Homo sapiens: one gene and its partners. Changing the gene in region 2 together with the main gene of any one other region gives a genetic interaction. Each region holds a gene or a part of one and is shown on either strand. Other genes may lie near its edges. The genes, in order: MCM2, MTA1 and INTS9.

Evidence for each region.
Region 1: changes in MTA1 (region 2) and MCM2 together harm fitness more than expected from each alone (negative genetic interaction), as found in Homo sapiens cells (one large-scale study listed by BioGRID).
Region 3: changes in MTA1 (region 2) and INTS9 together harm fitness more than expected from each alone (negative genetic interaction), as found in Homo sapiens cells (one large-scale study listed by BioGRID).

What each region holds. Positions count from the first base shown.
Region 1 is NC_000003.12:127,615,339-127,618,987, forward strand, and holds part of MCM2 (DNA replication licensing factor MCM2), read left to right. Parts: intron 1-523; coding exon 524-617; intron 618-1,529; coding exon 1,530-1,780; intron 1,781-1,940; coding exon 1,941-2,067; intron 2,068-2,630; coding exon 2,631-2,743; intron 2,744-3,649. UniProt on the Homo sapiens protein: Acts as a component of the MCM2-7 complex (MCM complex) which is the replicative helicase essential for 'once per cell cycle' DNA replication initiation and elongation in eukaryotic cells.
Region 2 is NC_000014.9:105,422,734-105,426,382, reverse strand, and holds part of MTA1 (metastasis-associated protein MTA1), read right to left. Parts: intron 1-3,649. UniProt on the Homo sapiens protein: Transcriptional coregulator which can act as both a transcriptional corepressor and coactivator. Acts as a component of the histone deacetylase NuRD complex which participates in the remodeling of chromatin.
Region 3 is NC_000008.11:28,813,423-28,817,071, reverse strand, and holds part of INTS9 (integrator complex subunit 9), read left to right. Parts: intron 1-3,459; coding exon 3,460-3,580; intron 3,581-3,649. UniProt on the Homo sapiens protein: Component of the integrator complex, a multiprotein complex that terminates RNA polymerase II (Pol II) transcription in the promoter-proximal region of genes.

The DNA of each region.
Region 1 (3,649 bases), on a different chromosome or scaffold from region 2:
CACACACTGAAATAGAAATGTTCCAGTGACTCACTAGTTGGAATTACTTCCTGGTGGACACATCTCCCAGATGTGCCACATTTATTGCATTGACGAGGCAGGCACTTGCATGAACTGTCGCATTTGTACCCACCCTTCTGTGAGTTGGATGTTGCCATCTCTCTTTTCCATATGAAGAAACTGAGGCTTGAGGTAGGCCAGTGCCATGACAGACCTGGTTCTGGTCTTATTTCTGCTCTTGGTCTGTGATCTTGGGAAAGGCCTTTCTGAAATATGTCAAGATTAGGGGTTCAGATGAAGGTTCTTCTAAACTCCAAAGTTCTGTGACTCTTGGGAAGAGCCAACTAATGAAAAGCTTTAGAGTCGGGCACGGCTTGATACCAGGGCCTGATGCAGTTGCAGCAGCTGTGGAAGTGGGTGTCTTTGAGCTGGGGATGTCGTGGTTCCCTGATGCCAGAGCATGTGGGTGACCTACTCTGTGAGTATCTGTTCCCATTCTTGTCGGTCTCCCTCCCTTTCTCAGATCTTTGCCAGCATTGCTCCTTCCATCTATGGTCATGAAGACATCAAGAGAGGCCTGGCTCTGGCCCTGTTCGGAGGGGAGCCCAAAAACCCAGGTGAGCACCCACCTTTCCTCTGCAGGGGTGTTAGCAGCTTTCTCTTTGGGGAGCCAGCATTCAAAGAAGGACACAGTGTTTTTAAAGCCTGGGTGCTGGGGAGAAAGAATGCATTAAAAGATGGTCTGGCTGGGCGTGACTCATTCTTCAAGGGAGAGGGTGGCCCTGAGTTGGGCATTCTGGGTGTTGGGCTGTTGGTCAGGGAGCCAGTGTCTGCCTGCTTTTGTGATTTAAGCAAATGAGTCTTTGCTTCTCTTCTATGTAAAAAATACTTTGTCTTTTAAAAACCTGTTTTAAGTACAAAAATACTATTGACACATGAGTTTGTATTTATATTACACTTTTATAGAACACTAAAAGTCATGGGTGAGGCTGATTTCCCCATTGACCCCCACTTCTCTTCCTAGTCCCTCCCTTTGTGGCCATTTACAATTACACAGCAACCACAGGGTTTCATGACTACACGTGTTTATTTGTACAAGCGCAGCGTCCCCTGTGTGTGCCCAGTGCTGTGCCTGTGCGCAGTGCATCCCACCGAGCTCTCCCGCTCAGTGCCACACTGCAGCATCTTTTCTTGTTAGTGCATACAGAGCAATTGCCTTCTTTTAAATGACTATCATGCCACCAGATAACGCAGTTTATTTAGCTCTCCCTTTGGAGAACACTTAGATTGTTTCTGATATTTCACATTCGCCAAGGACATCTCGTGCAACCCTCCTCTGCACCCGTGTGTGTTTCCCTGGGAGTGCCCAGAGTGGGACTGCATGGCGTAGGGCATTGTATCCCTTTCTAGAGGGACTGTGCCTTACCATTCCTAACAAGTAGGTTGAGGAATTGGTGGGGGATGCAACTGTGCCCTCCTCCTCTCACTTCCCACTCTCCCCCTCCCCCGCTTCTACTCATCCCCTCCAGGTGGCAAGCACAAGGTACGTGGTGATATCAACGTGCTCTTGTGCGGAGACCCTGGCACAGCGAAGTCGCAGTTTCTCAAGTATATTGAGAAAGTGTCCAGCCGAGCCATCTTCACCACTGGCCAGGGGGCGTCGGCTGTGGGCCTCACGGCGTATGTCCAGCGGCACCCTGTCAGCAGGGAGTGGACCTTGGAGGCTGGGGCCCTGGTTCTGGCTGACCGAGGAGTGTGTCTCATTGATGAATTTGACAAGGTGGGTCCCTGGGTCACGGAGGCTGGTGGAACTCAGGGGGTGTGTGTGGGCTTGGGCCTTAGCGACGGGAATGGTGTTAATGGGGTCCATTGGGACCTCATCGGAGACTTAGTAGTAGGGGCGTGAACCATGCTAAGGGTGGGCCATTTTAATCTTGCAGATGAATGACCAGGACAGAACCAGCATCCATGAGGCCATGGAGCAACAGAGCATCTCCATCTCGAAGGCTGGCATCGTCACCTCCCTGCAGGCTCGCTGCACGGTCATTGCTGCCGCCAACCCCATAGGTGCAGCAGGCACCCTGACTGCTGGGGCTGGGGTGGGACACAGGGAGGTCCCGCCTGCTTGAATTGGGAGCCCACGGGGTCCCCAGGAGCCGATCTGAGGAAGTCATTGTGCAGCAGAGGGTTCCCCTCTTCTGCATATCCTGCCAGAGTGGGGAACAGTGAAAGTGGGACCTGGGACACCTGGGTTTCCTGTTGAGTCATGTTCCTGGAATCACCTTGGATGTTCTCAGAAGGCATGGGAGGAGAGCCCAGTGCCCCTCTGGCCAGGATGGAGTTGGCTGTTGGTCTCAGCAGCGAATGCGTAAAAGAACCCAGGCTCTGTCACCCACTGTGTTCTTGGTTTTTCCTCCTGGGGAAGCAGTTATGCTTTCTGTCTAAATTAGGCTATTTTGGGCCCTGGTTAGGGTAAGCTCTTTGCTGTCTCAGACAGCAGGTGCTAAGTACCCACCTATGTCTTCCTCTTCCACTGCCCTCATCCCCTTCTGCCATCAGAGCAGCCTGGGGTCCCTGAGATGGGAGGATAGGGGAATCCACCCTGATGGAGGTGCTCCCCTGTGTTTCAGGAGGGCGCTACGACCCCTCGCTGACTTTCTCTGAGAACGTGGACCTCACAGAGCCCATCATCTCACGCTTTGACATCCTGTGTGTGGTGAGGGACACCGTGGACCCAGTCCAGGTATAGCTCACATGTGCCCGGTTTCCATGAACTGTGGTTTGGGGACCTCAGGTGAGGCTTGGGGTCATACAGTGTGCCCAACACAGGGGACAGGTGCTGCAGGGGCCATAGGCTGTTTTCTAGTCCTGTTCCCTCGGTCTCTTCTCATGTCCAGAAGTCGCCCTGATTTCTCTTTCCTTCACAGCACCCCCGACCCCCACCCTACATAACCCACAATCCACCAAATCCTGTTGTCCCAACTCCTGAGCCTACCCACCTCCCTCACTTCTGCCTCTGACTTGAGGCACTACCATCATCTGAACTGGCCTCCTGGCACCCATGTAGACTGTCTTCCAGTTGAAGGCATAAATCAGATCAGCCCCGTCCTTAACAACTGCTTGAGGCTTTCTGCTGTCATCAGAATAGAATCCAGGGTCCTCCCCTCCGGCCCGCACCCGCCATCTCTGCAGCTACCTCCTCCTCGCTCCCTTCCCTCACCTGCACCTGCACCTGCCCTTCTCTCTCAAAAGGGCCGAGCCTTGGGGCTTGATTGTGCTCCTTGCTCCTGGCAGACGCTCTCCCACACTGTCACATGACTTGCATCTCATTGTCGTCATCTCAGCTCCCTGTCTTTCAGGGAGGGGCTTTGCCGGGCACCCTTAGCTAGAGGCATCTCCTTGGTCCCTTGATCCTATCACTCTATTTTTCTTCTGAGCATTACTTTCCATAATTAATTTTTAAGACTATTTGTCTCCTGTCCCCTTGTGGAGATGAGCCCTGTGGGGACTCTGTCCCATTGTCTGGTTTGCCACCCACACCCAGAACTGCCTGGCACATGGTCAGTGTAGTCAGTCTTGTTGAAAGAGTGTCACCCTTGTAGGGCACACTCAGCCCTTCTCCAGCCACTGACCTCCCCAAAGCCACGCA
Region 2 (3,649 bases):
TTTTTTTGTGAGACGAAGTCTCGCTCTGTCACCCAGGCTGGAGTGCAGTGGCGTGATCTCGGCTCACTGCAACATCCATGGGCTCATTTTTAAGGTATGCTTGGTACCAGGAGCCGCTGCCGCTGCCCTGGTTTCCTCCCCTGTGACGACGCTGCTGTGAGGACAGCCTGGCAGGGCACGGACGGGAAGGGACGCGTGGTCCCCTCCATGCCCCAGGGGTCCCCCAACCGCACAGATCTGCAGACCCTCCTCCTAATGGCACCCACAGAGCTCAGGCCCTGACCGTGAAAGGGCTCTGGGGGCAGGCGGGCACTCGAGCTCCTCAGGCCACCGGGCAGAGAAAGCAGCAAAGCCCACGCCAGGCCGGATCACGGGGCTGCAGTGCTGAGGCCCGCCCCAGGGAGGCTGCCGGGCGGCTCTGAGGAGCGGTCACCTCAGACCCCTCAGGTGCGCTGCATGGCCCAGGCGGGAGCAGCCTAGAGGGTGGTGCAAAGCCCATAGAAGCAAGCCTTGGGGCCTGGGCTCGGGGGTGCCGGGGGCACATTGGTGGGGCGGGTGGGGTATAGGGGCGAGGTGCTGGGTGGCCTTGCACTATGAGGGTGGCCCCAGCCTCCCTGGGCTTGGCTCCATCGCCACCAAGATCCCCCAGTCCGCACACTCAGACATGAGCCCACCGGGACAGGAATGGAGCAGGCCAGCTGGGGTGGGGGTGGGGGTGGAGACACCAGCAACACGAGAGCCCCAGAAAGCAGTGAGCCCAGGTAGCACACGAGGAAAGACATTTGGAGAATATTAAATGCTCTGCCGGGCATGGTAGTTCACAGCCTTGCAAACCCAGCGGCACTTTGGGAGCCCAAGGCAAGAGGATCGCTTGAGGACGGGAGTTCGAGACCAGCCTGGGCAACATAGTGAGACTCCGCCTCTATAAAAAATCTTAAAATTAGCTGGGTATGGTGGTGTGCACCTGTGGTCTCAGCTACTCAGGAAGCTGAGATGGGAGGATCGCCTGAGCCTGTGGGGTGGAGGCTGCAGTAGCTGTGATGGTGCCACTGCACTCCAGCCTGGGCAACAGGAGACCCTGTCTCAAAAAAAACATAATTACATGCTCCCAAGACAGCCTGCTGGAGTCTAAGGTAGGGTCTAAGCTGCCCCCCAACCAGGTCTCAGGGTGGGCTCCTCCTGGGGAAGGGGGGCCACCCTCCCTAGCAGGACTCAGCCCATAATCTGGCAAGAGCACTCCAAGTTCAGCAGGAGGAGGAAGGAGGCCCTGCAGCCAGTGCTCCCCCAAGCCGCCTCCCGGGTACCTGGCCAGGCACACGGCACCTCCTCTGGCATCCCAGCCTCACCTGCTGACCAGCGTCCAGATGCGCAGCTGGGGACCCACCTCTAGGTAGGATGCCTGCAGGGCCACTGCAGCAGTTTTGACACCCAGAACCCACACACACGGGCGGGAACGGCACTGCCAGGGCGGGTCGGGCGCGAGGGATGTGCTTCATTGGACCATATATTCCAACATCTCTCACTGACAGCTACTTTTTTATTATTCTGAGAGCTTAACGATCAAATTCTCCACTCAGAACAATATGGGGCCAGGCACCGTGGCTCACGCCTGTAATCCCAGCACTTTGGGAGGCCGAGGCGGGTGGATCACTTGAGGTCAGGAGTTCGAGACCAGCCTGGCCTAGATGGTGAAACCCTGTCTCTACTAAAAACACAAAAACTAGCCAGGTGTGGTGGTGCACACCTGTAATCCCAGCTACTCAGGGGGCTGAGGCAGGCAAATCACTAGAACCCAGGAGGCGGAGGTTGCAGTGAGCCGCGATTGTGCCACTGCACTCCAGCCTGGGTGACAGAGTGAGACTGTCTCAAAAACAAAAAAAAAAGCCAGACGCAGTGGCTCACGCCTGTAATCCCAATACTTTGAGAGGCTGAGGCGGGTGGGTCACAAGGTCAGGAGATCGAGACCATACTGGCTAACACAGTGAAACCCCGTCTCTACAAAAAAAAAAAAATTACAAAACATTAGCCAGGCATGGTGGCGGGCGCCTGTAGTCCCAGCTACTTGGGAGGCTGAGGCAGGAGAATGGTGTGAACCCGGGAGGCGGACTTGCAGTGAGCCCAGATTGCGCTACTGCACTCCAGCCTGGGGGACAGAGCGAGACTCCGTCTCAAAAAAACAAAGGTGGAGCAAGCCAGGAGTGCTCAGTGGCTGAGGCAGGAGAAGCTCAGTGGCCCATCCTGCCTGGAGAGTGAGCCAGGGCTGCCAATGGCGCAGTGCTGAGGCCGATCCTCACAGGCCAAGTGGGACAGCCCCATGCCATCCCCTCCAGGACATCACACCTGGGCCCCTGCCACTTCTACCACTCCCGCTCCTGGTGCTCACAGGACGGCCGTGTCTCCAGGGCTCTTCCCTGCCTTCTTGGAAAAGATGGGTGGGACCCCAAAAGTCGGCCCATGGAGCAGCAAGTGCCTAGGGACACGGTGCACTCAGCACTCCAGGGTAGGGCGGCGCTGGCTGCAGCCCTCTACAAATCTGACATTTTTTTTAAGTTTACTTTTTTCCCCACTGGCAAGTATATAGAGCAATAAAGTTTAAACTTCAAAAAAACACTAGAATAAAAATACAAAAGCAACATTTCTAACAGCGCGCCAGAGCGCAGATGATGGCACATGCCAAGCCCAGTGAAGACCAGCAGCACGGACAGGGTGCTTCCGCCCAGGCTGCGCCAGAGACCGGGGCAGAGCCCGCGGCCCTGCAGGGGCAGGGGCTTTCTGGCATCCTTTCAAACTACATTAAAATTTTTTTTTTTTGATACGGAGTCTCACTCTGTCACCCAGCCTCAACTTTTATTAAAATTAAAACAAAAAGGCCGGGCATGAGCTCACGCCTGTAATCCCAGCACTTTCGGAGGCCGAAGCGGGTGGATCACTTGAGGTCAGGAGTTCCAGACCAGCCTGACCAACATGGAGAAACGCCGTCTCTACTAAAAATGTAAAACTTAACCAGGCCTGGTGGCGCCTGGCTAGTCCCAGCTACTTGGGAGGCTGAGGCAGGAAATCGCTTGGGCCGGGGAGGCGGAGGTTGCAGTGAGCCGAAATCGCGCCTCTGCACTCCAGCTTGGGCCACAGAGCAAGACTCCATCTCAAAAAAAAAAAAAAAAAAAAAATTAAACAAAAAAAATCCAAAAGATGGGGTGTTAACCTCTTGCAATGAAAAACAGAAACACCCAAGGCAAAATGGTAATGGCCTGTCCACTGAAAAGCAGAAGCCCCACATGAGCAAGCTGCAGGCGGCTGGCAGGCACCGATTCCTGCTGTCCTGTTTTGGATGCTATCTAACATCTTCATGTTCAACCCAGAGAAGAAACATCCCGCCGTTGCCCTGGGGCCCTCTCATCCCACAGCAGGTTTCAAGCCTTCCCCAGCCCTCGGGATGGACAACCCTTGAGAAGCAGAGGTCAGGGAACCCTGACCCCGCCACCCTTGCCCAGGCCATCCGCTGCCCTCACAGGCACAGACAGAAGGCCTCTGTCCGTGGCCAGGGCACTCCATGGGGAAGAAACAGGCCCTGTTCCCTCCCTGCTCACCACTTCACCCAGCTCAGCTGGCACAAAAATACTGCCACCACACCTTCACCCTGCCTAGCCCA
Region 3 (3,649 bases), on a different chromosome or scaffold from region 2:
ACTCATCTGACAAAGGGCTAATATCCAGAATCTACAATGAACTCAAACAAGTTTACAAGAAAAAAACAAACAACCCCATCAAAAAGTGGGCAAAGGACATGAACAGACACTTCTCAAAAGAAGACATTTATGCAGCCAAAAAACACATGAAAAAATGCTCACCATCACTGGCCATCAGAGAAATGCAAATGAAAACCACAATGAGATACCACCTTACACCAGTTAGAATGGCAATCATTAAAAAGTCAGGAAACAACAGGTGCTGGAGAGGATGTGGAGAAATAGGAACACTTTTACACTGTTGGTGGGACTGTAAACTAGTTCAACCATTGTGGAAGTCAGTGTGGCGATTCCTCAGGGATCTAGAACTAGAAATACCATTTGACCCAGCCATCCCATTACTGGGTATATACCCAAAGGACTATAAGTCATGCTGCTATAAAGACACATGCACACGTATGTTTATTGCGGCACTATTCACAATAGCAAAGACTTGGAACCAACCCAAATGTCCAACAATGATAGACTGGATTAAGAAAATGTGGCACATATACACCATGGAATACTATGCAGCCATAAAAAATGATGAGTTCATGTCCTTTGTAGGGACATGGACGAAATTGGAAATCATCATTCACAGTAAACTATCGCAAGAACAAAAAAACCAAACACCGCATATTCTCACTCATAGGTGGGAATTGAACAATGAGAACATATGGACACAGGAAGGGGAACATCACACTCTGGGGACTGTTGTGGGTGGGGGGAGGGGGGAGGGACAGCTTTAGGGGACATACCTAATGCTAAATGACGAGTTAATGGGTGCAGCACACCAGCATGGCACATGTATACATATGTAACTAACCTGCACATTGTGCACATGTACCCTAAAACTTAAAGTATAATAATAATAAAATTTTTAAAAAAGGAAAAAAAAAAGAAAGTCAGTTTTGCTAGATATATAGTCCTTGGCATGCATTTTCTTTCTTTGAGTATCTTAAATATGTTCTCATATTTTTTTCTAATATTAAACATTGCTATTAAAAACACTGATAAAATCTAATTTTCTTTCCTTGTAAGTCACTTGTTCTTTTCCTAGATCCCAAAGGTTTGCTTGTAGTCTAAATATTTTCCAGAATATGTCTGTTGTTCATTGTTCTGGGTCAGTATTCTCAAGTGTACACTGTGTTCTTTTAGTGTGTAGTTTCGTGTCTCTTCATTTTAGCAATTATAGTATTTAGTAATTGAATATTATGAGTGTTAATTATTATTCTCACTTGGTTTTCTGTGATGCCACATAAGATTCCCTTATGTGGCATCTTGCTTATCTGTCTTCAACATTTGTTAGGTTCTTTTGAATTGTTTAAATCTCTTCATTTCTTTTTGGTATTTTTTATTAATCTACTCTTGTGTTTCTATTACAGGTTGAGTGTCCCTTATGTGAAATACTTGGGACCAAAGTGTTTCAGACTTCAGACTTTTTCCGATTTTGGAATATTGCTGATTGAGCATCCCAAATCCAAAATCCAAAGTAATCCAGTGAGCATTTCCTTTAAGCGTCATGTTTGCCTCAAAAAGCTGCAGATTTTAGACCATTTCTGACTTCAGGTTTTCAGATTTGGGATGGTCAACATGTAGTTTAGTCTTCATTTCCAAAATGATGTTTTCTTTTATTTCTAATTCTTTATTGAGTTTTGTCACCTCATTTATAAGCTTTGCTGGTTTTTCATGTATGTACCTCTTTCACGTTTGTATAACTTTTAAATCTTTTTAGCTTATTTGAAATTCTGGTGTATTGTTGGCATGCTTTCACTCTCTATATGACATTGTATTTCTAATTTGTAACAGCTCTTTTTATTCTCTTAATCTTTTATTTTGTAGCAATCTCTTCTCATTTCTTAGCTATACTATCTTATTTTTCTAACGATAGTAAGGACAAGCTGTTCTTAAAGTTTTCTTCTACCTGCCTAATTTATTTCTTCTAATTTCCCTGCCTGCTCCTCTGCCCCCACTTGAGGCCTTTATTATTTTAGAGACTTTTCTCAAATTTATGGTAGTCCTTGGCTATTGGCTCATGTTTAAGAGTTGAACGATTAAAAAAACTAATTAGAAAGTCTATGTGCCATGGGTAGGACTTGTTCACTTCCACACTTTACCATAAAGTAATCTGATTGAGCTGTTTCTTTGTGGAATCCTCTGCGTTAGAATCTTTTCATTAATTTTTTTTCTTTGAGGCTGATCGGATTCTTCAGAGAAGATTCTTTCAGCCCCCTACCCTGAGGGGAATAAGCTTACTCATAGTGCTTTGGCAGCCAAATGAGGAGAGGAACATTGTTCCTCTGTAAATTTTTGTTTAGGAAGGCTGTCTCAGTTGATGGTTTCCCGTAGTCCAGACTTTCATTTTTACTCCCTCCAGAGAACAACCTCTGGTAGCATACCTGAGAGGAGAAGGGACATCTGCTGAGCTATATGGAAGGAATGAGGAGATCTGGAAGGTTCTAAGTATCTCGTCTCTTTTTTCAACAGTTCCTCTTGTTTTTAGGTTGATTCAACTTCCTGATACACCTGTTGTTTTCAGTTGCCATATTTTTTGTGGGTTCTGCAGTAGAAATTAAACGTTTGCATTGAACTTTCCTGGGCCTATGAAGTCAGTTATCATTTGTCTGTCTACTTTCTAAAATGCCTTGCTATTGTCTCTTCTCTCATTCTCTTTGTCTTAAGGGTGTGTGTGTGAGAGTGTGTGTGTGTGTGTGTGTGTGTGTGTGTGTGTGTGTGTGTGTGTGTGTGAGAAGCCCTGTTCAGTGTTGTTTCAGGAGAGAGAGGAGAGGCTAATGGCATGCATTCATTTCACCCCAGTACTTGGACCTGTATTGTACAGTGAATGTCAGGGAAGTTACTCTTCAGGTCTCCTGATTCTTTTGGAGCAAATGATAAAACGTTTTTCTGTTGACACATTTTGGGCGACATAGCAAGACCATGTCTCTATTTTTTTTTTTTTTTTAAAAAAAGAAATGGCTGAGCACGGTGGCTCATGCCTGTAATCCCAGCACTTTGGGAGGCCGAGTTGGGCCTATCACAAGGTCAGGAGATTGAGACCATCATGGCCAACATGGTGAAACCCCATCTCTACTAAAAATACAAAAATTAGCCGGGCATGGTGGTGGGCGCCTGTAATCCCAGCTACTTAGGAGGCTGAGGCAGGAGATTCGCTTGAACCCGGGAGGTGGAGGTTGCAGTGAGCCGAGATGGCGCCATAGCACTCCAGCCTGGTGACACAGTGAGACTCTGTCTCAAAAAAAGTAAAAATAAAAACAGAGAAATGGTCATAAAGGAATCCTATGAACAATTATATGCCAGTAAATTAAACCATTTGGATCAAATGGACAAATTACTAGAAAGGAATGCTGTAGAACATGAAGAAATGTTCACCTGGTAGTTGACATTGTGATCCATTTGCAGGCTGTTACCTTCTCCTCTCAAGGATGCAGTGGAAGTCTCAACCTGGAGAAGATGCTATACAATGCAAGAGGTGAACTCTGCCCTTAGTAAAATCCAGCTGGTGGGATATTCTCAGAAAATTGTGAGTATTCATATTACATTTCAGTTATTCATGAATGCTTTCCATTCATATTGTTGTTTGTTGTTTGGA